Homo sapiens: one gene and its partners. The protein of the gene in region 6 purifies or fractionates together with the protein of the main gene of each other region. This does not show direct contact. Each region holds a gene or a part of one and is shown on either strand. Other genes may lie near its edges.

What was found.
Region 1: the proteins of TYSND1 (region 6) and POLD3 purify together in Homo sapiens (tandem affinity purification; one large-scale study listed by IntAct). This does not show direct contact.
Region 2: the proteins of TYSND1 (region 6) and ANKRD40 purify together in Homo sapiens (affinity purification with mass spectrometry; 2 studies listed by BioGRID and IntAct, with this or other methods). This does not show direct contact.
Region 3: the proteins of TYSND1 (region 6) and P2RY1 purify together in Homo sapiens (co-immunoprecipitation; one large-scale study listed by IntAct). This does not show direct contact.
Region 4: the proteins of TYSND1 (region 6) and ECI2 purify together in Homo sapiens (co-immunoprecipitation; one study listed by IntAct). This does not show direct contact.
Region 5: the proteins of TYSND1 (region 6) and LONP2 purify together in Homo sapiens (co-immunoprecipitation; one study listed by IntAct). This does not show direct contact.

The regions. Positions count from the first base shown.
Region 1 is NC_000011.10:74,616,582-74,620,081, reverse strand, and holds part of POLD3 (DNA polymerase delta subunit 3), read right to left. Parts: intron 1,546-3,500; coding exon 1,278-1,545; intron 66-1,277; coding exon 1-65. UniProt on the Homo sapiens protein: Accessory component of both the DNA polymerase delta complex and the DNA polymerase zeta complex.
Region 2 is NC_000017.11:50,697,915-50,701,414, reverse strand, and holds part of ANKRD40 (ankyrin repeat domain-containing protein 40), read left to right. Parts: intron 1-698; coding exon 699-847; intron 848-1,521; coding exon 1,522-2,016; intron 2,017-3,500.
Region 3 is NC_000003.12:152,838,905-152,841,939, forward strand, and holds the end of P2RY1 (P2Y purinoceptor 1), read left to right. Parts: 3' UTR 1-2,535; downstream 2,536-3,035. UniProt on the Homo sapiens protein: Receptor for extracellular adenine nucleotides such as ADP. In platelets, binding to ADP leads to mobilization of intracellular calcium ions via activation of phospholipase C, a change in platelet shape, and ultimately platelet aggregation.
Region 4 is NC_000006.12:4,115,206-4,118,575, reverse strand, and holds the end of ECI2 (enoyl-CoA delta isomerase 2), read left to right. Parts: intron 1-1,124; coding exon 1,125-1,268; intron 1,269-2,546; coding exon 2,547-2,702; 3' UTR 2,703-2,870; downstream 2,871-3,370. UniProt on the Homo sapiens protein: Able to isomerize both 3-cis and 3-trans double bonds into the 2-trans form in a range of enoyl-CoA species. Has a preference for 3-trans substrates.
Region 5 is NC_000016.10:48,345,300-48,348,799, forward strand, and holds part of LONP2 (lon protease homolog 2, peroxisomal), read left to right. Parts: exon of another isoform or gene 1-1,612; intron 1,613-2,207; coding exon 2,208-2,415; intron 2,416-2,800; coding exon 2,801-2,991; intron 2,992-3,500. UniProt on the Homo sapiens protein: ATP-dependent serine protease that mediates the selective degradation of misfolded and unassembled polypeptides in the peroxisomal matrix.
Region 6 is NC_000010.11:70,140,591-70,143,700, forward strand, and holds part of TYSND1 (peroxisomal leader peptide-processing protease), read right to left. Parts: intron 2,264-3,110; coding exon 2,078-2,263; intron 1-2,077. UniProt on the Homo sapiens protein: Peroxisomal protease that mediates both the removal of the leader peptide from proteins containing a PTS2 target sequence and processes several PTS1-containing proteins.

The DNA of each region.
Region 1 (3,500 bases), on a different chromosome or scaffold from region 6:
GCTTTTCCAAAAAAGTTGCTCATCATATTCCCTTTCCCTGGTGCCTTGTTGCCTGCTGCAGATGCCTACAAGCACAGAAAACACATATGATTTTTTGCTGGCATTTAGGCTGTTCATGAAGTAGCAGTCTCAAACAAACTCTTCTATAGCAAACTGTTGCGATGGTATAGTCTCTATATAATCATGCCAAAACGCGTAGGTGTTAGATATAAGAACAAATCTAGAACAATAATCCACACCAGACAGTAACTGGTGTTAATCTCTAAAGCTTAGTTTCTTATATATCTTATAAAATTAATTATCCATGGATATAGCTAAACTTTTCTTGAGCACATTTAAAAACTATTTAATTTGACAGAATTAAAAAAGATCAGAGGCAGTATGTACACAAAGCGGGAAAACCTAAAACATTACATTTTTAATCATCAGAAGTAGATCTGAATTCCTGGTTCCCACCATTTAGTAGCAATATGGGCTCCAGGCAAATTACTTAAGTCTAGGTTTCAGTTTTACCATATGCGAAAGGGAAATAGTTAATATCTCCCTCACAGAACTGATAAGAGGATTTAAACAAAGACACTGGCACACAGTTGAAATTCAATAAACGTTAGTGTTTTCCTCCATCCTTCTTCTTTCCCAAGACAGACGCTTGAAAATGACAGTGATCTGAATTAAATACACTTGACACTGGAAAATGACAGTGATAATAATAATAGTAACAACAATAATTATGCTTTTCTGGATTTTTAAAATAGTATCTTAATGATACTTTTCTTAAGTCAATGCCCTTGAGTTAGTTCAGATGACTGAACAATAAAAATCTAAGAGAAGCAAATAAGGCAAAAACAAAACAAAAAAACCTGCATAAAGTATAAGAATGGGAAATACACTAGGAAGGAAGGTATATGTTGCAAAGCCCAGAATATAAGATGTTCCTCAGAAAGACATATTGCAAATAAACATTTTTTTGAATGTCAACAATTCTCGAGGTGTTTTCACATGTTTTCATCTGGGTTTCACAACAATCTTGTAATGTGCACAAGGTAGGCATTACCATTTTGCAAAGGAAATCCAAGGTTTGGTGAGAATCATTATCAAAAGCAAAAGAACTCTTTCAGATAACAATATCAAGTATTAAAGGGTTCAAACTAAAGTAGAAAAATCAGAACTGAATATCAGAATCTTATATAAATAAACTACTACCACTGCAACCATTAATGCTTTTCTAGTTACCCACTCTGAGCTGCAATGAAGGGGTATCTTCAAAGAAGACTTACATTTGTTACTTCTTTAGCCTCTGTTTTCGTTTCCTTGTTGGTTTCTTGGGTTTTAGCAGCAGCTTTGGAGGCAAACATTCCCATAATTCCTTTGGGCTGCTGGGAAACCTGCTTGGATGCAGGTGGGCCATGACCATTGGTGGTCAGCTCATTGTTGGCTTGTGTCTCACTTGACATGTGAAGATGTGACTGCTCAAACTTTTTGGAAGACGAAGAGGATTCAGCAGGAGCTCTAGGGACGGCAGCTGCACATTGTATAGCACTAAATCTGGGGACAGAAATGTTACATTAAGTTAATGTCAGCATATGCATTCTTGGGTGGTTCAACAAAAAAAGAAAAAAAAAACTAATGTCAGTATAAAACTTTATTTTCAAACTCTTGCTTCTTCCACACAATACTTAACTCTAATATTGTTTAGAATCGACTTTAGAAAAATGTATGAAACTCTCTATTACATAAAGAAACAAATATTAGAGAGAAGTGAGTCACTTTTACTAGGTTATACATCTAGTTAGTAATAGATAGGATTGGAATTAGGTGCCTTCTACCACTAATTGAATATTCTTGTTTTTGATAAAAGTATTCTAATTCAAAAGAGTAGGAATGCAACCAACAATAATAAAAGATGCAGTAATTTCATTATCCTTGGGAAATGAAATAGCCTTTGTTTTTAAAGACCTTCCTCTGATAGGGCTAGATTTGCAATATTGACTGAATCAAAACTAAGCTTTAAATATTAACAAATTTCCTGGCAACTCTCTTGGCCAGAGTAAATCATGCTGTAGGGTTGGGCGCATTGGCTCACGCTTGTAATCCCAGCGGTTTGGGAACCTGAGGCGGGCGGATCGCTTAAGCCTAGGAATTTAAGATGGGCCTGGGCAACATGGTGAAACCTTGTCTCTACAAAAAATACAAAAATTAGTTGGGTGTAGTGGCGCATGCCTATAGCCCTGATTACTCAGGAGGCTGAGGTAGGAGGATCACCTGAATCCAGGAGGTCAAGGCTGCAGTGAGCCATGAGCTCATCACTCAACTCCAGCCTAGGAACAGAGTGAGATGCTGTCTCAAAATAAATAAATAAATCATGCTTTAAAACAAAGAAGAGGCCAGGTGCAGTGGCTCACGCCTGTAATCCCAGCACTTTGGGAGGCCAAGGCAGGTGGATCATGAGGTCAGGAGTTCAAGACCAGCCTGGCCAACATGGTGAAACCCCGTCTCTACTGAAAATACAAAAATTAGCTGGGCGTGGTGGCACGCGCCTGTAGTCCCAGCTACTCAGGAGGCTGAGGCAAGAGAATTGCTTGAACCCAGGAGGCAGAGGTTGCAGTGAGCCAAGATCACACTACTGCGCTCCAGCCTAGGCGACACAGCAATACTCTGTCTCAAAATGAAAAACAAAAAAAAATGGGAGAAGCTGGAAGCAGAGCCACTGGCTCCTATAACCTATAGTCCTTTACAGCCATTTGTTAATAATTTCTAATAATACTAACAGCACCGGACAAGTAAGTATGCCCAAGGCCAAGAGAAGAAAATTGGTGGAACAGCTTGTGTGGCATATTAAAGGGAACATACATCTCTCTCTAATCATTATAGAAGTGCCGTTTCACACAAATCCATAATGTAACATTCCACATTGTGAATGGGTAATTGATTTAGCCTTCTCAAAGGATTGTACTTAAAGCAAAGTTCCCCAGCTTTTTCTAACAAAGAAAAATATTTTATTTTTCCCAGTCTTGCTTATTGAGCATATGTAAGACCTCCTTGAAGTCTTATTTATCTTTTTTATTTCAGGCACCCAGCTCAAGACCTGGCACATAGAAAAGTGCTGGAAACGACATGTTGAAAGAATGACTAAGTGAATGAAAGTGAGGCTTCTGGCTTCTCTCCCTTCTTTAGTGTATCACCTTCAACTTGGGGTGGGAGATTTCTAAACTATGTGGTGATGGCAATTATCTTAAAAGATCAACCAGGCACAACTTCAAGATTAACTGCTAGAATACCTGGCCTAATGAAAAAAAAAAATCCCTGATACATCATTTCATCTCAGAAGTAACTTTAGACTGGGCAGCCCCAAAGCTAGAGTCAAAAGCTCCAAAAATCTTCCACTGATTTATTATGGTCTTCATCAGAAAACTCTGTATTTACACACATCTTTTATGCATCAGAGTTAAGAACAGACGGAAATCATTTGCTTTCACCCACTGCTCTTCCTCTCTGACCTT
Region 2 (3,500 bases), on a different chromosome or scaffold from region 6:
GTTGTTGATGTATATTTTTTAAGTACCTCAGGAATTAAAGTATGTGTGCAGTGCCTTACATTTACGCAGATGAGGATATGTTTGTAGCCTTCTGGAGAGAACTAGAGAAGCCAACTTTTTAAAAATGGAAATTTGGAAATCCTTTGTGTGTGTGTTAAGGAAAGAAAAGTAAGAAGGAAAAAGAAAGTGAGCAACTGGGATTCAGGCAAGAATATCTGCTGTCATAATAATAATTTAAGTGACAGAGCAAGCTGCTGATAGGAGATGGTTATTATCCTGATAATATTGAATCTTCAGGTGGCATATGAAGTGAGTTTCCATAGTCCCTGAAAAGGAATATAGCAATAGAAAAATATGTTTCAGAGACTGAGATGATCTAATGAGCGATACTGATAGAGTATATTCCACGGTATCATTGGAGTTAGCCAGCCAGTGAGCTTACCTTCTGGAGGCTATTGAAATTAAAACTCCTAGGTTAAGTTAGTTTTTCTCAGGAGCCAGAAATGAAATTTAAAAACAAAATTTAAGCATATTAAATATTTTGCTCATCGGCTTTGTGAAAAGTTGAGATTACCAGCCCGGTTACCTGGTTCTAGCTGAACTCTAACAGGCTTGTTTATACATTATTTACTAATGTTTAGAATCTGAAATCCAAAATCACTTCTCCTCTTTTTCAATCATTATTTTCTTTGGTACAGGACTTGTTTACACTGGGCATGTAAACGAAACCATGGTCAGGTGGTCTCTTACCTGTTAAAATCAGGAGCTGACAAAGAAATTCTTACCACAAAAGGAGAAATGCCAGTCCAGTTAACATCAAGGAGAGAAATCAGGAAGATTATGGGAGGTGAGTCTGTGTTTGGGGGAACTTTTGATTTCCTCAGACTCATTGAAGACTTGTGGTATTATTGGCTACGTTCTTAATGCTGGTCAAACAACTGCTCTATTTCTTTCTTTTTTTTTTTTTTTCCGAGACGGAGTTTAGCTCTTGTTGCCCAGGCTGGAGTGCAGTGGCGTGATCTCGGCTCACCACAACCTCTGCCTCCCAGGTTCAAGTGATTCTCCTGCCTCAGCCTCCCAAGTAGCTAGGATTACAGGCATGTGCCACCACGTCTCGCTAATTTTGTATTTTTAGTAGAGACGGGGTTTCACCATGTTGGTCAGGCTGGTCTCAAACTCCCGACCTCAGGTGATCCGCCAGCCTCAGCCTCCCAAAGTGCTGGGATTACAGGCATGAGGCACCGCTCCCGGCAACTGTTCTATTTCTAAAAGCAAATTACTGTGCCAAGATAGTAATTCCAGATTGTTTCTGGGGAGGTCAGCATTGTAAGGTTTTATTTTTTTATTTGTAAAATTTAAGATAATGATAAAAATGGTAATCATAAACCTAATGAAGTATTCTTTTTTCTTCTGACCTGACACTGACCAATGTCACATACCAAAAGACACCACTTTCAAAAGACACCTTGTTTTGATAATTTTGAAAGGACTGTGTAAATGTTCTGTTTTCTTCTTTTTAAGTGGAAGAAGAAGATGATGATGATGATGATGATGACAACCTCCCCCAGCTGAAGAAGGAGTCAGAACTGCCCTTTGTTCCCAACTATTTGGCCAACCCAGCCTTCCCTTTTATCTATACACCCACAGCAGAGGATTCAGCCCAGATGCAGAATGGGGGCCCCTCCACACCCCCTGCATCACCCCCTGCAGATGGCTCACCTCCATTGCTTCCCCCTGGGGAACCTCCCCTGTTAGGGACCTTTCCCCGGGACCACACCTCTTTGGCACTAGTTCAGAATGGTGATGTGTCGGCCCCCTCTGCCATACTCAGAACACCAGAAAGCACAAAACCGGGTCCTGTTTGTCAGCCACCAGTGAGTCAGAGCCGCTCCCTGTTTTCTTCTGTCCCGTCCAAGCCACCAATGTCTCTGGAGCCTCAAAATGGGACGTATGCAGGACCAGCGCCAGCATTCCAGCCATTTTTCTTCACTGGAGCATTTCCATTTAATATGCAAGGTAACCCCTCATCAGCAAACAGCCTCTGCAACAGGGGAGTTGGTGTCCAGAGGGGTGGGATTTAATGAGGTATTCTGGGTATAATTGCAAACTTACAGAAACGTTACATGACTAACATAAGGAACTCCCTTTACTCAAATTCACAAATTGTTTACCTTTTGCCCTTTTACCCTGATACCCTTCAGTATTCTTTCCATTATATCTTTCCTAAGAACAAGGATATTCTCTCTTTTTTTTATTGAGACGTAGCTTCGCCCTGTCACCCAGGCTGGAGTACAGTGGTGTGATCTTGGCTCACTGCAACCTCCGCCTCCCAGGTTCAAGTGATTCTTCTGCCTCAGCCTCCCAAGTAGCTGAGATTACAGGAGCATGCCACCACGCCTGGCTAATTTTTTTTTTTTTTTTTTTTTTTTGTATTTTTAGTAGAGATGGGGTTTCACCATGTTGGCCAGGCTGGTCTCAAACTCCTGACCTTAAGTGATCTGCCTGCCTCAGCCTCCCAAAGTGCTGAGATTATAGGTGTGAATCACCGCACCCAGCTGGATATTCTCTTATATAACTACAGTACAAATGACCAAATTTGAGAAATGTAATCTTGAGCTAATGCTGTTCTGTAATCCATAGACCATGTTTAAATTTTGTCAGTTGTCTCAAACATTGCCTTTTGTATTCCCTCATCTACTATACGTACTGTCTGTACTATTACAGAAATAGTACTATCTGTACTATTGATATCTATCTGGACTATCTGTACTCCTCTGCCCCCTGCATCCTGCCCAGGATCATATGTTGCATGTAGTTATCACGTTGTTTTAGTTTCCTTTAATCTGGAATCTTTACCCTTTATCATTTTTGATCTTGATCTTTTTGAAGAGTCCAGGCCAATTATTTTTGTGGGATATGATTTTCTATCATTCTTTCTCTACTTATTAGTTGGTATTTTACTGTAAAGAAGGGCTTTCCCTTCTCCTTCATTCATATCAGTATTGACTCATATATTCTTATTTTATTCAGTGGGTTATAATCTGTTACTATCATTTTTTAATTATTCAAATTATCCCAGATTTGGCCAGTGGGAGCCCCTTGAAGCTAGTTCTTATGTCCCTTGCATGTGTCTTCATTGTTCTTGGAGCACTGCCTTACTTTCTGGGGCAGCAAGATGTTCCGGGCTTATAGCATAACTTTTCCTGCCCCAACCCTGGAATCAGTCATTTCTCCAAGAAGCCCTGGTTCTTTTTGGTGGAGAATGGTATTTAGGGCACACAGCAAACTTGCCTCCCACTTGGGCCCACCGAGAATGGTATTCAGACACCAGGATGTGGTCACTAGGTGTCCTCATTGCTACAGGTATATCATTTCTTCTAGGCCCGTTGAGAGGACATAGCCAGGAAAGATATCAATATTTCTCTATGTATAACTTTTTAAAAATATTAAAAACCACAAGTTCATCCTGATTCTTCCAAATCCAGTCAAATGCCATAGGG
Region 3 (3,035 bases), on a different chromosome or scaffold from region 6:
CATTACTTTATTGACCTTGTTAAACAAGATCAATATCATTAAACTGACCAAGATGGAAATTACAGGACTTGTACCAGACTTGAACTTGTAGCCTAATGATACACATTTTTACAATATTTCTTCACCATTTAGTTTTCTTTCTTTTAGGTCTCAGGATGCTCAGCTTAATTTAGAGTATGTGTTAAGTACATTGTTTCAGCGTCCAGAGAATTTTGTGAGTGTGGATCCAGTGAGGAGGTGAACAGTAACTAGAAATGCTTGTTTACTACTTGGCATGTTTTTTCCAAAGTGTTTCTTCTTTAGCTTCATACATCACATATGGACACTGATGACATGTGAATGCATGCCACATAGTAACAAGAATGATCTTGCCAACTCCTTCCAAGCCAAAAGAAGCCTCTGGGAAGGTGTGCCAATGGTGAAAACGTACAGAGGGTCAGGGTGAAGCAGTGATCTCTATTGGCTGAAAAACTGATCAGGTCATATGATGATTGAAGTATGTTTATTGTAAGGGCAGAAATGTGTTGGCATTTGGATAAAAAACTGCTAACATTATAGAACTTATTACCTAACAAAATTTCACACCACAAAAAATATTTTAATGGCAAATTCAAGGTGTTTTATTGCTTACAAATCAGCATCTTTGACTCTTTGAACATCAATTTGTGTTTACATTGAAATGACAAAAAGACAAACTAAGAAGAAATACAGCATGCAAGTTGGAATTCAGAGTTAAAACCATGATGTTGCCGCTCAGCCAGCTATGTGACTGTTGACCCTTTCAAGAACACACATGGATTTAAAAGTTGGATGACATCCATTGTTGGGGCCTTGGGGGATATGGTAAAGCATGAAAACTAAACAGCCAGGAGCCTGTGAAATCTGCTACTGTATTTTCCAGGACTTCATTCCACTCCTTGGCTAAAAAAATCTTGGAAGTTTCACAGATTATGATGTGGACCTGTCACCTGTAAATTGTCTCAATCTACTCAGACAAGACACTAAACTGTCTTTGGATACTATAGATGTCAGTGCTTATAGCAGCTGGAATTTGGCTAGTGACAATGTTTAAAGATGTAATACTAGTTAGTATCTATTGAAGCTTAAACTTTGCTGGTCAGGTTGTAGCTATTGTAAAAGTATTTATTGAAGAAGCTCACAGTCCTTCAGTTGTACAGACTGAAAAACTTTCATGAAAGATCCAACATACTAATGTAAATTATATTTATTACAATGTATGATATTAATGTGTCAAACTGGTGTATTTTACAAAATATATAATGCATACATAAATAAGAGTTGTATATTACAGTGCTTTTCAAATATCAGTGTCTTGGAATATTTAAGTCTTCACATTTTTTGGTCTAAAATATGAAAATGTTTCATGATACAAGTGATTAATTTTCCCTAGTAGTGCTTTTGCATGTTTGCCTTTTTATTTAAGTTTTTTTCTATATAGACACAATTTGGTGTCAGACTATCATAAGATCGATAGTGAATATAAAATATCTTAGCCAAATGGGGTCTGTATTGTCTACATTTTATATATTAAATAAAAGTTTTTGTTGTCTTTTCAGGAGGTTTAGAGTATTGTCACTAAATATGATCAAAGCTTCCCTTTCCAAATGCAAAAGTCTTGTCCTACATTTAAAGTTGATCTGTCATGTTTTAGCAGTCAAGTGGGATGGGCATTATATAAACAACGTTACAATGTAAGGAAAATCTTTAAGGAGATGGGGAGAGAAAAAGGCAGCTGGTATAATCGGTTACTGCTGCTTAGTTCTACTTAATTTTTTGTGTTGCTTCTTCTTAAGGTGAGATAGCATAATCTTAACTGTTTTGAGATGGAATTTTAAAGTAACACACTACCAGCGAGTTCAACACTGCTATTGATTTTAATCTGTTTTTTTTTGTTTAGTTGATAACTTAAATTCCAAGTTTCATAGTGATAATTGTATATTATTTGGCTGCTGAATTCTGTTAGAGTTTTTTATTCTGTTGTACATTGTATTATACACATAATCACAAATTAATATGAAGGTGAATATATGTTACATATCAAAATTTGTGAATTTGAATTATAGTATGTTTTAGTGCTATTGCAAAAAATGTTTATTTTTATATTATCTGTGATTTTAATATAGATGATTGAACTAGATTTCTTTTTGAGTGATAGTGCCATTGAATGAGCAGTATGGAAACAGTGTTACTTGATATTTTGAGCTTTCTCAGGTTTATCTAAATCAGTGGTAGCTTAACAAAACCCAGACTAATTGTGTGTAATTGTATTTTTAATAAAAGGAAAGTACATTTCCTATAATAGCATAGTACTGTTTGCATGTAAGAGTATGCAAAACCTTGTGTGTGTGTGTGTGTGTGTGTGTGTGTGTGTGTCTTAGTGTGTGTAAGGCATGGCAGCCAACTTTGTATCTGCTATTTTTAGTACGAGCAGAGCTTCATAATTGTGGTCACTAGAACTGTACTTACCATGGACAGTTAAAACTGAAAAAGACTCAATAAAACTATGAAACATGGTTTGATGGCTTCTATGTTATTACAGTGTTAATACTCACAAGTTTTGCCAAACTTTAACAAATAATGTACAGACTGAGAAGTACTGTAAAACACATTGAACTAATTCAGTTGTTTTTTAAGGTGAAGACTGGGCTCTAAAAACTACGGTGTTAAAGGTAGAATCCTGGTGCAAGATAGGTAAAATTATCAATATTTGATATTCAATTGCCAATAGGAATGTGAGCTAATTTTTTATTGTAAAATACTTCATGCTACCTTAATGTGTGCTTCTCATACTGGTGTTCTGTGTTTAAAATGTTGGCTGTAATTTTTTCTCATCTAATTTTTAATCAGGGTAACCACGCTAATAATTCTTTGTGGATTCTATTTATTAGCATACATCACCTGCTTTTTCCAGGTTTGTTAAAAAATGTATTGTGCCACAGTGAAAATGGTGTACAATGAAATGGGAGCATGCTTAAAGCATTACCTTTTTTTTTACCTCAGTTGAGAAGGTAAGT
Region 4 (3,370 bases), on a different chromosome or scaffold from region 6:
GAAGGGGATTGTGACAAGACCAGAAGCTGAGCTATAGGAAAAGGCTTAGCAAATATTGCTGCAAGATCTCAAAGTGGGGCAGTGGGAATTGAGCTTGTTTTCATTGCCTATTAGGATTTTGTTAAAAACTTATATATGTATGTTTTTACTCTCATTAGGCTATCACATACCCTGAATTGAACTTGGGAAGGGGGCAGAACTGACTCTACAAGTCTTAGAGCATTTGGCTATTAGAGCATTCCTTGGCTGGGTGCAGTGGCTCACACCTGTAATCCCAGCACTTTGGGAGGCCAAGGCTGGTGGATCACTTGAGATCAGGAGTTCAAGACCAGCCGGGCCAACATAGTGAAATGCTGTCTCTACTAAAAATACAAAAATTAGCCGGGGCATGGTGGCGGGCACCTGTAATCCCAGCTACTCAAGAGGCTGAGGCAGGAGAATCATTTGAACCCAGGAGGTGGAGGTTACAGTGAGCCAAGATCGTGCCTCTGCACTCCAGCCTGGGCAGCACAGTGAGACTCTGTCTCAAAAAAAAGAAGAGCATTCCTTTTCTGGAAAAGAAATTGCAAATGGAGAGAGGATATCCACTTAATGTCCTCAGTTTTTTCGGAAGCTAACTATAAGTCTTTGCTTTCCTTTAGTCAAATAGAACTAATTTGAGTACCAATGCAGGTAAAGAAAACTCTCAGAGCCAGATCACTGGGTAGTTTCCAGAGAATGGAATTTTGAAAGTTTCTAAAGGTTGACCCAATGACCGTAATTTTTCTCTCCTTTTTTCCTCTGTAAAATAATAGTTTATAGTGTATCAAATGGAAAATCATAGCTGCTGTGGGTTATAGAATCAAGCATCTGCTTCAGATCATTTCTGCCCTGGACCCCCTGATCTTGCCCCTCCAACAACGATACACAGAAGCAGCAGCCCTTATAGACCTTCCCAGGAGCCTGTCTCAGCACACAGTTTGCAAACCGTTGCCTATTGAGGTCATCAGCTTCTCCCTTACTGAGAAATACCAGCAACCTCAAAAGACCATGAGTACATCTCTCTAAGCCTCCTGAAAGCAGTTAACTGAAGCCTTGTTTTATTAAGTTAGTATCTTAACCTTGCTTCTTGCTTTTCATTTCAGGCAACAGAGATGCTTATTTTTGGAAAGAAGTTAACAGCGGGAGAGGCATGTGCTCAAGGACTTGTTACTGAAGTTTTCCCTGATAGCACTTTTCAGAAAGAAGTCTGGACCAGGCTGAAGGCATTTGCAAAGCTTCCCCCAAATGTTAGTATTCATCTTTTACTTCTAAGAACCTTGAAAATGATTTCCTAAGGGAAAAATTTATTTGCCTTCAGAGAATAAGTCATAAAAAGCACAAGACACATCTTTAGTTACCTCTAAGCACATCTAAATTTGGAATTAAAAAATAACTGTAGTAATGTTGGAAATGCAGTACTGATTTTTACAAAACTTATCAAATAGACCTTCCATTTCTGTGTGGGGACAGAGGGCAATTCTGTATGGGGATTACTTGAGCAGGATGCTAGGCAGTATTTGCTGAGCACTTTTACTTTGGAATCCAGGTGAGAAGCATGGATTAGCTACTTTGAGAGTCTTATTGTATAGCACTTTTGTTTTTGTATGTGGTAGTGAGTGACTGATTGCTTTTATATTCTTGCTATTCAAAATGTAGTCCTGGAGCCAGAAGCTTGAGCAGCTACCTGAGGCTTTTTGGAAATGTATTATCACAGGCCTGCCCCACACCTACTGAAGCGATTTATATGCACACTGAATTTTGAGAAGCACTGTCTTATATTACACATGCAGCTTAAGATTTAACAGCATTAGGGCCGAGAACAGTGGCTCACACCTGTAGTCTCAGTACTTTGGGAGGCCAAGAAGGGCAGATCACCTGAGGTCAGGAGTTCAAGAACAGCCTGGCCAACATGGCAAAACCACATCTCTATTTAAAAAATACAAAAATTAGCCAGGCGTGGTGGTGGGCGCCTGTAATCCCAGCTACTCTGGATGCTGAGGCAGGGAGAATTGCTTGAACCCGGGAGGCAGAGGTTGCAATGAGCCAAGATTGCACCACTGCACTCCAGCCTGGGCGACAGAGTGAGACTATGTCTCAGAAAAAAAAAAAAGATTTAACAGGATTTATTAAATGAACATGGGAGAAACAAGAACCAGAATCATAGAATAATCTCACTCCTATTAGATTAACTCTTTTTTTCTTTTTGAGACAGAGTCTCACTTGTCACCCAGGCTGGAGTGCAATGGTGCGATCTCAGCTCACTGCAACCTCCGCCTCCCGGGTTCAAGCAATTCTCTTGACTCAGCCTCCTGAGTAGCTGGGATCACAGGCATGTACCACCACAACCAGCTAATTTTTGTATTTTTAGTAGAGATGGGGTTTCACCATGTTGGCCAGGCTGGTCTTGAACTCCTGACCTCAACTGATCTGCCCGCCTCGGCCTCCCCAAGTGCTGGGATTACAGGCATGAGTCCACGTCCAGCCTAGGTCAACTCTTAACCTTATTGTTGGTTTTGTTTTTCCAGGCCTTGAGAATTTCAAAAGAGGTAATCAGGAAAAGAGAGAGAGAAAAACTACACGCTGTTAATGCTGAAGAATGCAATGTCCTTCAGGGAAGATGGCTATCAGATGAATGCACAAATGCTGTGGTGAACTTCTTATCCAGAAAATCAAAACTGTGATGACCACTACAGCAGAGTAAAGCATGTCCAAGGAAGGATGTGCTGTTACCTCTGATTTCCAGTACTGGAACTAAATAAGCTTCATTGTGCCTTTTGTAGTGCTAGAATATCAATTACAATGATGATATTTCACTACAGCTCTGATGAATAAAAAGTTTTGTAAAACAAGCTTAAGAATTCACACAGGTGTTTGGTAGTAGAGAGTCTTACGTCTTTTGACATGAATCGTTGTTGCCAGGAACACTGGAACATGGTGCCTGGGGTCCTACTTTGAAAAGCACTCACAGCATTACAGGCTGAAGTCATGTCTTTGAATGCCACTATAGCACTTTGACGTCCACAAACAGTGGCTGACTGAATTGGGCCAAATGCTGACAGCCTACAGATCACTGACTTGAGGTCTTCAGTGGGTTGCATGTTCTTTTTCAGCCATGTAGCAAGGGAGCAAAATGGAAGGAATAGTATTACTAGAAAACAAATAAGAATCAAGAATAAGAATAAGAACCCAAATAAGAATCTTAGTTGGGTTTTTTTGCACAATTTAATAAAGAGGCATGAAGGGAAAACTGGGTCATTTCATTGGAAAGCAATGCTCTGTATGAGTAATTGTTTTCTTATTTGTTAGAGTCCCATTCTTGTTTAATGTGGTACTTTATGAAAGGCATCCC
Region 5 (3,500 bases), on a different chromosome or scaffold from region 6:
TTGTGAGGATTCAAATATAAGAAAGGGATTATTCTTGGTAGAGTTAACAAAATTGTACCAAATGACTTTTTGTGTTAAACACGATTCATTCACCCAACCCTAGAAAGGAGCCTGAATGAAGTCTAATTTGGGTGACAGATTCCCACACAAATTAGATGTATGTCATTCAGGTATAGAGAATTGATTTTATATTAGAAAAAACAAACCTTGTAAACAGTTTTATAAATAACTGTTTCATGATTTTCCTTAAGTAGTACTGATCTCTTACATATAGATCGTTTGTGTCTTTCGCCTCAAGTTAGTATAGAACAGGGCAAGTGGCAAAGCTCGAGGAAAGTGTGACCTGAGGTACATGCTGTCAGCTTGATGCTGGAGTTTGGCCTCTCAAATCTCTAACCTGTTAAATGAAGTTAATTAGGATTAATTTTTTTTAATGTATGTTTACTACTGAAAATAAGTGCTCGGCCAGACGCAGAGGCTCACGCCTGTAATCCCAGCACTTTGGGAGGCCGAGGCTGGCAGATCACCTGAAGTCAGGAGTTTGAGACCAGCCTGGCCAACATGGCGAAACACTGTCTCTATTAAAAATACAAAAATTAGCTGGGTGTGGTGATACATGCCTGTAATCCCAGCTACTCGGAGCCTGAGGCAGGAGAACTGCTTGAACCCAGGAGGCGGAGGTTGCATTGAGCCAAGATTGTGCCATTGCACTCCAGCCCAGGCGACAGAGTGAGACTCATGTCTCAAAAAAAAAAAAAAAAAAAAGAGGAAAAGAAGTGCCCAATAGCTTCAATGGATGCCACATAATTTTGGAATAATTTTTACAATCAGGAATTTCATTGTCCAAGCCCCTTAGAAAAAGAAGCAACCCAGCCCCATACCCAGAAAGTCAAGCTGTATAGTGCTGTTCCTTAGTGAGACGGTCAACTCTCAGTAGAAAAATCTCCTGTTTGGATTAGTGCTTAGTTGACCTATTGTGTTCAGTTCCTCTAACATGAGTAACTTCTATTGGATAGGAAATTTTGAAGCTCAAAGGGTGTAATGAGAGTTAACATTACTGATTTTCCACTGTTACTTTTTAGTGTTTTCATAACTTGGATGTGTTAACCTATGGCCCATCAACTATGCTCCTAGTCTCAGGTGACAACATGTTCAATTTAAGATGGCAGGCAGTACAGTGGACCTCTCTCATCCCATGGGAAGGAACCCAGGATGTTTATTATGTAGTATTGTATAGTCTCTGCAGCAGTAATAGAGAAAGTTAAAGGTAAGCGGTGGAGAAGTAAAATCTAGAGTTTCTAATATAACCCTTCTCACTTTTCTTTTCAAAAAAAATAAGAGGGTCTCACCATGTTGCCCACACTGGTCTCTATCGAACTCCTGGGCTCAAGCGATCCTGTCGTCTCAGCCTCCCAAAGTGCTAGGATTACAGGCATGAGCCACTCTGCATGGCCAAGCTCACTCTTCTTAAAGGTCTGCTAGTAAGAGGGTTTCTACTTTTTGAAACAAATTCATGATTACCTAAAATGAAGCTAGGTTATGAAGTATATATAAATATGCAGCCCAATAGGCTGGGTGTGGTGGCTCACACCTGTAATCCCAGCACTTTGGGAGGCTGAGGCAGGCAGATCACTTGAGGTCAGGAGTTTGAGACCAGTCTGGCCAACATGGTGAGACCACATCTCTACAAAAAATACAAAAATTAGCGGGTGTGGTGGCCTGTGTGCGCCCATAGTACCAGCCACTTGGGAGGCAGAGGCAGGAGAATCACTTGAAGCCAGGAGGCAGAGTTTTCAGTGAGCTGAAATTGTGTCACTGTACTTCAAGCCTGGGCAATGGAGTGAGACTGTCTCAAAATATATATATATTTGCAGCCCAATAAAGATACTTAGATAAAACTATTGGGTTTATTCCTTGAAAACTAGGGCATGTGTAGCTAGATCTGGCTCATAAAAAGCAAAGTTATTTACATATATTTTAAGGTAAAATTGCCTCTGATAAATGTCAAAGAGGAAGTTTAGGTCTTTCTTCTGGCAGAAAGCCAGAGAGTAAGTGCTGAATGTGACGCAGAATCATGTTAGGTAACAAGGACTTTGAGGTAAGTGGCTGAAGTCTTCTGTGGAGTCAGCCGACTCTTGCAGGATTGTGTGGTATCAGTCACCTTTAGCATTTGCCAACCCAACTCTGATCATTCTTCTTCTTTCAAGGTATCTCAGCGTTTGAGTCAGCCAGGAGTAGCAATAGGTTTGGCTTGGACTCCCTTAGGTGGAGAAATCATGTTCGTGGAGGCGAGTCGAATGGATGGCGAGGGCCAGTTAACTCTGACCGGCCAGCTCGGGGACGTGATGAAGGAGTCCGCCCACCTCGCTATCAGCTGGCTCCGCAGCAACGCAAAGAAGTACCAGCTGACCAATGGTAGGAGCCTGCACCCGGCCAGGCAGGCGTGACCCAGGAGGCGGTACCTTCCATGGCGGAGACTGGCATGAGCTCGAGACTGCCAGTTACACATCTAGCAAAGTACACACCGTTTTGAACCCCTGTGGAAATCCTAGTTCCCATTTCAGGACTATTTGACTAGTGCCTGAACTAGAAACTAATTCAAAAGGTTTATTTTGTTTTAATACGACTTAGAGTAGAATGGAACTGTTCTTCCACACCCTCACCCAAATTGTACTGTCCACCAATATTTTGAAGAATTCATTTACCCAAAACATTCATTTTTGTTTGTGACTTTTTTTTTAGGAGAAAAAGAAAACAGGTTTAATTTTTCTACATTAAAGTCCCTTTTTCCTTTTTAAAGCTTTTGGAAGTTTTGATCTTCTTGACAACACAGACATCCATCTGCACTTCCCAGCTGGAGCTGTCACAAAAGATGGACCATCTGCTGGAGTTACCATAGTAACCTGTCTCGCCTCACTTTTTAGTGGGCGGCTGGTACGTTCAGATGTAGCCATGACTGGAGAAATTACACTGAGAGGTCTTGTTCTTCCAGTAAGTATGAAAAAACAATTTATATGGTTATTTTTTATTTAATTTTTGAAAATTAATATTATTTTTAAATACGGGTTTGCCTTCTTTCTATGAAAACCTTGGTTTTAAGTATATATTATATTTTTATGCCTGTAACTAATTCATATTTTAAAATTTTGATCAAATAAAAGAAAAACTGACAATTTTTCACATTTTCCTTTTTTTTTTTTTTTTTTTTTTGAAATAGACAGGTCTCACTCTGTTGCCCAGGCTGGAGTGCAGTGGTGTGACTGTAGCTCACTATAGCCACCAAGTCCTGGGCTCAAGCGATCCTCCTGTCTATCTCCCGAATAGCTGGGACTATAGGAGCACGCCACCATGCTCAGCTAATTTATTTTATTTTGCGTAGAGACAGGGTCTCTCTGTGTTGTCCAGGCTTGTCTCAAACTCCAGGTCTCATGCAGTCCTCTCATCTCCACCTCCCAAAGTGCTGGGATTACAGGCGTGAGCCACCACATTCAGCCCACGTT
Region 6 (3,110 bases):
GCATGGATGTGTGTGTAGTTTTTTAAAGATAATTTCAGACATACAGAAGTCTTGCCTAAATATTGCAGAATTCTATATACCCTTTGACCAGCTTTCCTTTATGTTCGTATCTAATGTCACCAAAAAATATTTATCAAAACCAAAACATATACCTTGGTAGAATACTGTTATTAAGTGAACTACAGAACTCATTGACATGAGTTGCACTAGTTTTTCCACTAATGTCCTTTTTCAGTTCCAATATCCAGTCTAGGACTCCATATTCCATTTAGTTGTCGCATCTCCCAAATCTCCTCCAATCTGGGTCAGTTCCTCAGTCTTTCCTTATCTTTCGTGGCCTTGACATTTTTAAAAGTGCAGGTTATTTTATTTATTTACAGTTTTTTTTTTTGTTCTTGTTTTTGTTTTTTTAGAGGCAAGGTCTCGCTCTGTCACCCATGCTAGAGTGCAGTGGTGGGATTATAGCTCACTGCAACCTCAACCTCCTGGGCTCAAGTGATTCTCCCGCCTCAGCCTCCCTAAAATATTTTGTAGAGATGGGGCCTCACTATGGTTGTCCAGCTTGGTCTTGAACTCCCAGACTCAAGCAATCCTCCCGCCCTGGCCTCCAAAAGTGCTAGAATTACAAGTGCGAGCCACCATACCTGGCTTTTTTTTTTTTTTTTTTAAATAAACACTGTTTATTTTTTTGAGATGGGTCTCGCTCTGTCACACAGGCTAAAGTGTAATGGTGACCATAGTTCACTGCAGCCTTGAACTCCTGGGCTCAAGTGATCTTCCCACTTCAGATTCCTGCAGAGCCAGGACTACAGGCACATACCACCATGTCTGGCTCAGGTCAGTGATTTTAGAGAATGACCCTCAATTGAGGCCTACCTAATGTTTTCTCATGACTATTGGGTTGGTGCAAAAATGAATGCGGTTTTTGTCATTACTTTTAATTGTTTTGCCATTACTTTTAATTGTTTAAGGTTACACATTATTGGGAAGAATACCATAAAAGCCATGTGTCCTTCCCAGTGTCTCAGCTATCTGATGTCTGTATGGAGTACTTCTGACGTTCACCTTGATCACTTGGCTGAGGTGGTATCTGCCAGGCCTCTCCAAGGTAGACTTAGTATTTTCCTTTCTTTTTTTTTAATTAAAAAAAATTTTTTTAAATAAAAATAGAGGCAGAGTCTCACTATGTTGCCCAGGCTGGTCTCGAACTCCCATTTCAAGTGATCCTCTTGCCTCAGCCTCCGGAAGTGTTGGGATTACTGGCACGAGCTACCACACCAGGCCTAGACTTATGGCTCTAAATATTACTTACGGCTCCAATATTTCCTCTTTGTAAGTACTAAATATTTAGAGGAAATATACTAAAGTTATGCAAATACAATTTTACTTGTATACTAGGATGGAACAGATAAGTAAACATATTGTAGACAACAAGAGCAAGGTTTTTCACTACAGGAGAAAGAAGAAACAAGGAGAGTTAGACTGGACTGGAGTTGGAGGTTTCTAGATGAACTCATGTTTTTTTCTTTTTGACAGCTAAACAGACTGTTTTTTAAAAACCTGAATGTTACCAAAATTTAAAAATTGATCGATTTAACGGCCACATGTATTTTTTTAAAAAAGCTTTACATGTCTTGTGAAAATATTAGAATACCAGCCAACGTTAGGCCCATCCTCCTTCATGGCCACAGTCTGCAGCAGCTGAGTCGAGTGCGCTTCAGTTTAGACCCCTCCCCTCCCCTCCCTGTTGTCTTCTCATTCATTTGCTTTATCTTTCCAGCCTCTGTTGGCTTTTGAGTCTGTGACGCTTTGACTAATCCAACTCCTCAATTTCACAGATCAAACCAGATTAGATTAGTAGCAGAGAAGGGACCAGAGCCCAGATCTCTTTCCTCCCAGTCCAGCATCCGTCCCTCTCCACCATCAGGAGAACAGCCTGCAAACCTTCGCTAGCTCACTCATAATGCCCACCATTTTCCCAGACAGAGGGTGCACTGGGGCTGGCCACAAGCACTCATGGGGTGGGACTGAGGTTCTGGCAAGTGGGAGGGCGGGAGGGGGCCAAAGAGCTGGTTACCAAGGAGGTTTCCTGAGTGGTTGGAGAAGAGGGGTCCCCCACTGGAGCCGCTGTGCACAGCACACGTGGTCTGCAGCATTACGGGCGTGCCATTCACCTGCACCACAGCCGAAAGGATGCCTGAGGTCACCGAGGGCCCGCAAGACTGGCCAAAGACGCCAAAGCCCACCACACTCACAGCCTCGCCTGCCAGGGAAGGAAGGAGGGTGAAGCTGGGGACACCTGTGTTACAGCAGGACTCACACTCCCTAACTCCCATCCCTACCCTCTCCAAACATTCCAAACCTCTCCACCCTTCAAGTTTCTGCTCAGATACTCCTGCCTCCAGAGAGCCTTCCCCATGTCCCCTGGCTGGAAGAGGCTGAGAACTCCACTGAGCTCCTAGCACTGTATCTGCATGACCACTTCTGAGCAACAGGCTGTTCCCTAGTCCTTGTTCCCTGGACAGGCGGGGCAGTGACTTTTAGGAGTTCCTAACACCTACCTACATGCTCAATAAATGTTTGTGGAATTCACACCCATCTCCTCCTGGAACTCCTAAGAAGTCTCTTCGTGAAAAGAAATGGTGATGATGGCTATAATGCAGCCATGACCTTCCTTTTCCAAGTGCAGGGTATGGGGGTAAGTGCTTTACAGGCAACGTCACACCCAGCCCTCACAACACCCAGAAATAGGATGCATTAGCCCCATTTCAAAGACGTGGAAAATGAGGCAGAGGATAGTTAACTAGCCTGTCCAAGGACATGGGACTAATAGGTGGCATAGGAAAGATGCCCATCCAGAGCCCCTGGACCCTTCATCACTGTATCACACTGCCTCCATGGAGTGCAACATCAGTACTTATGTGGCAGCATCACAAAGCCTTTTACCCAAATCGTGCCCCTGGAGCCTTGAAAGTGCCACATGCCTCTCTGACCAGCCTGAAGTGTTAAGGAACCCCAAAGGCCCAGCATCCTCACACTACATTGCTGCAGGCACTCGGGGAAAGGGCGTGCAGCATTATCCTTCCCAGGGCACTCCATGTGCCCCACCA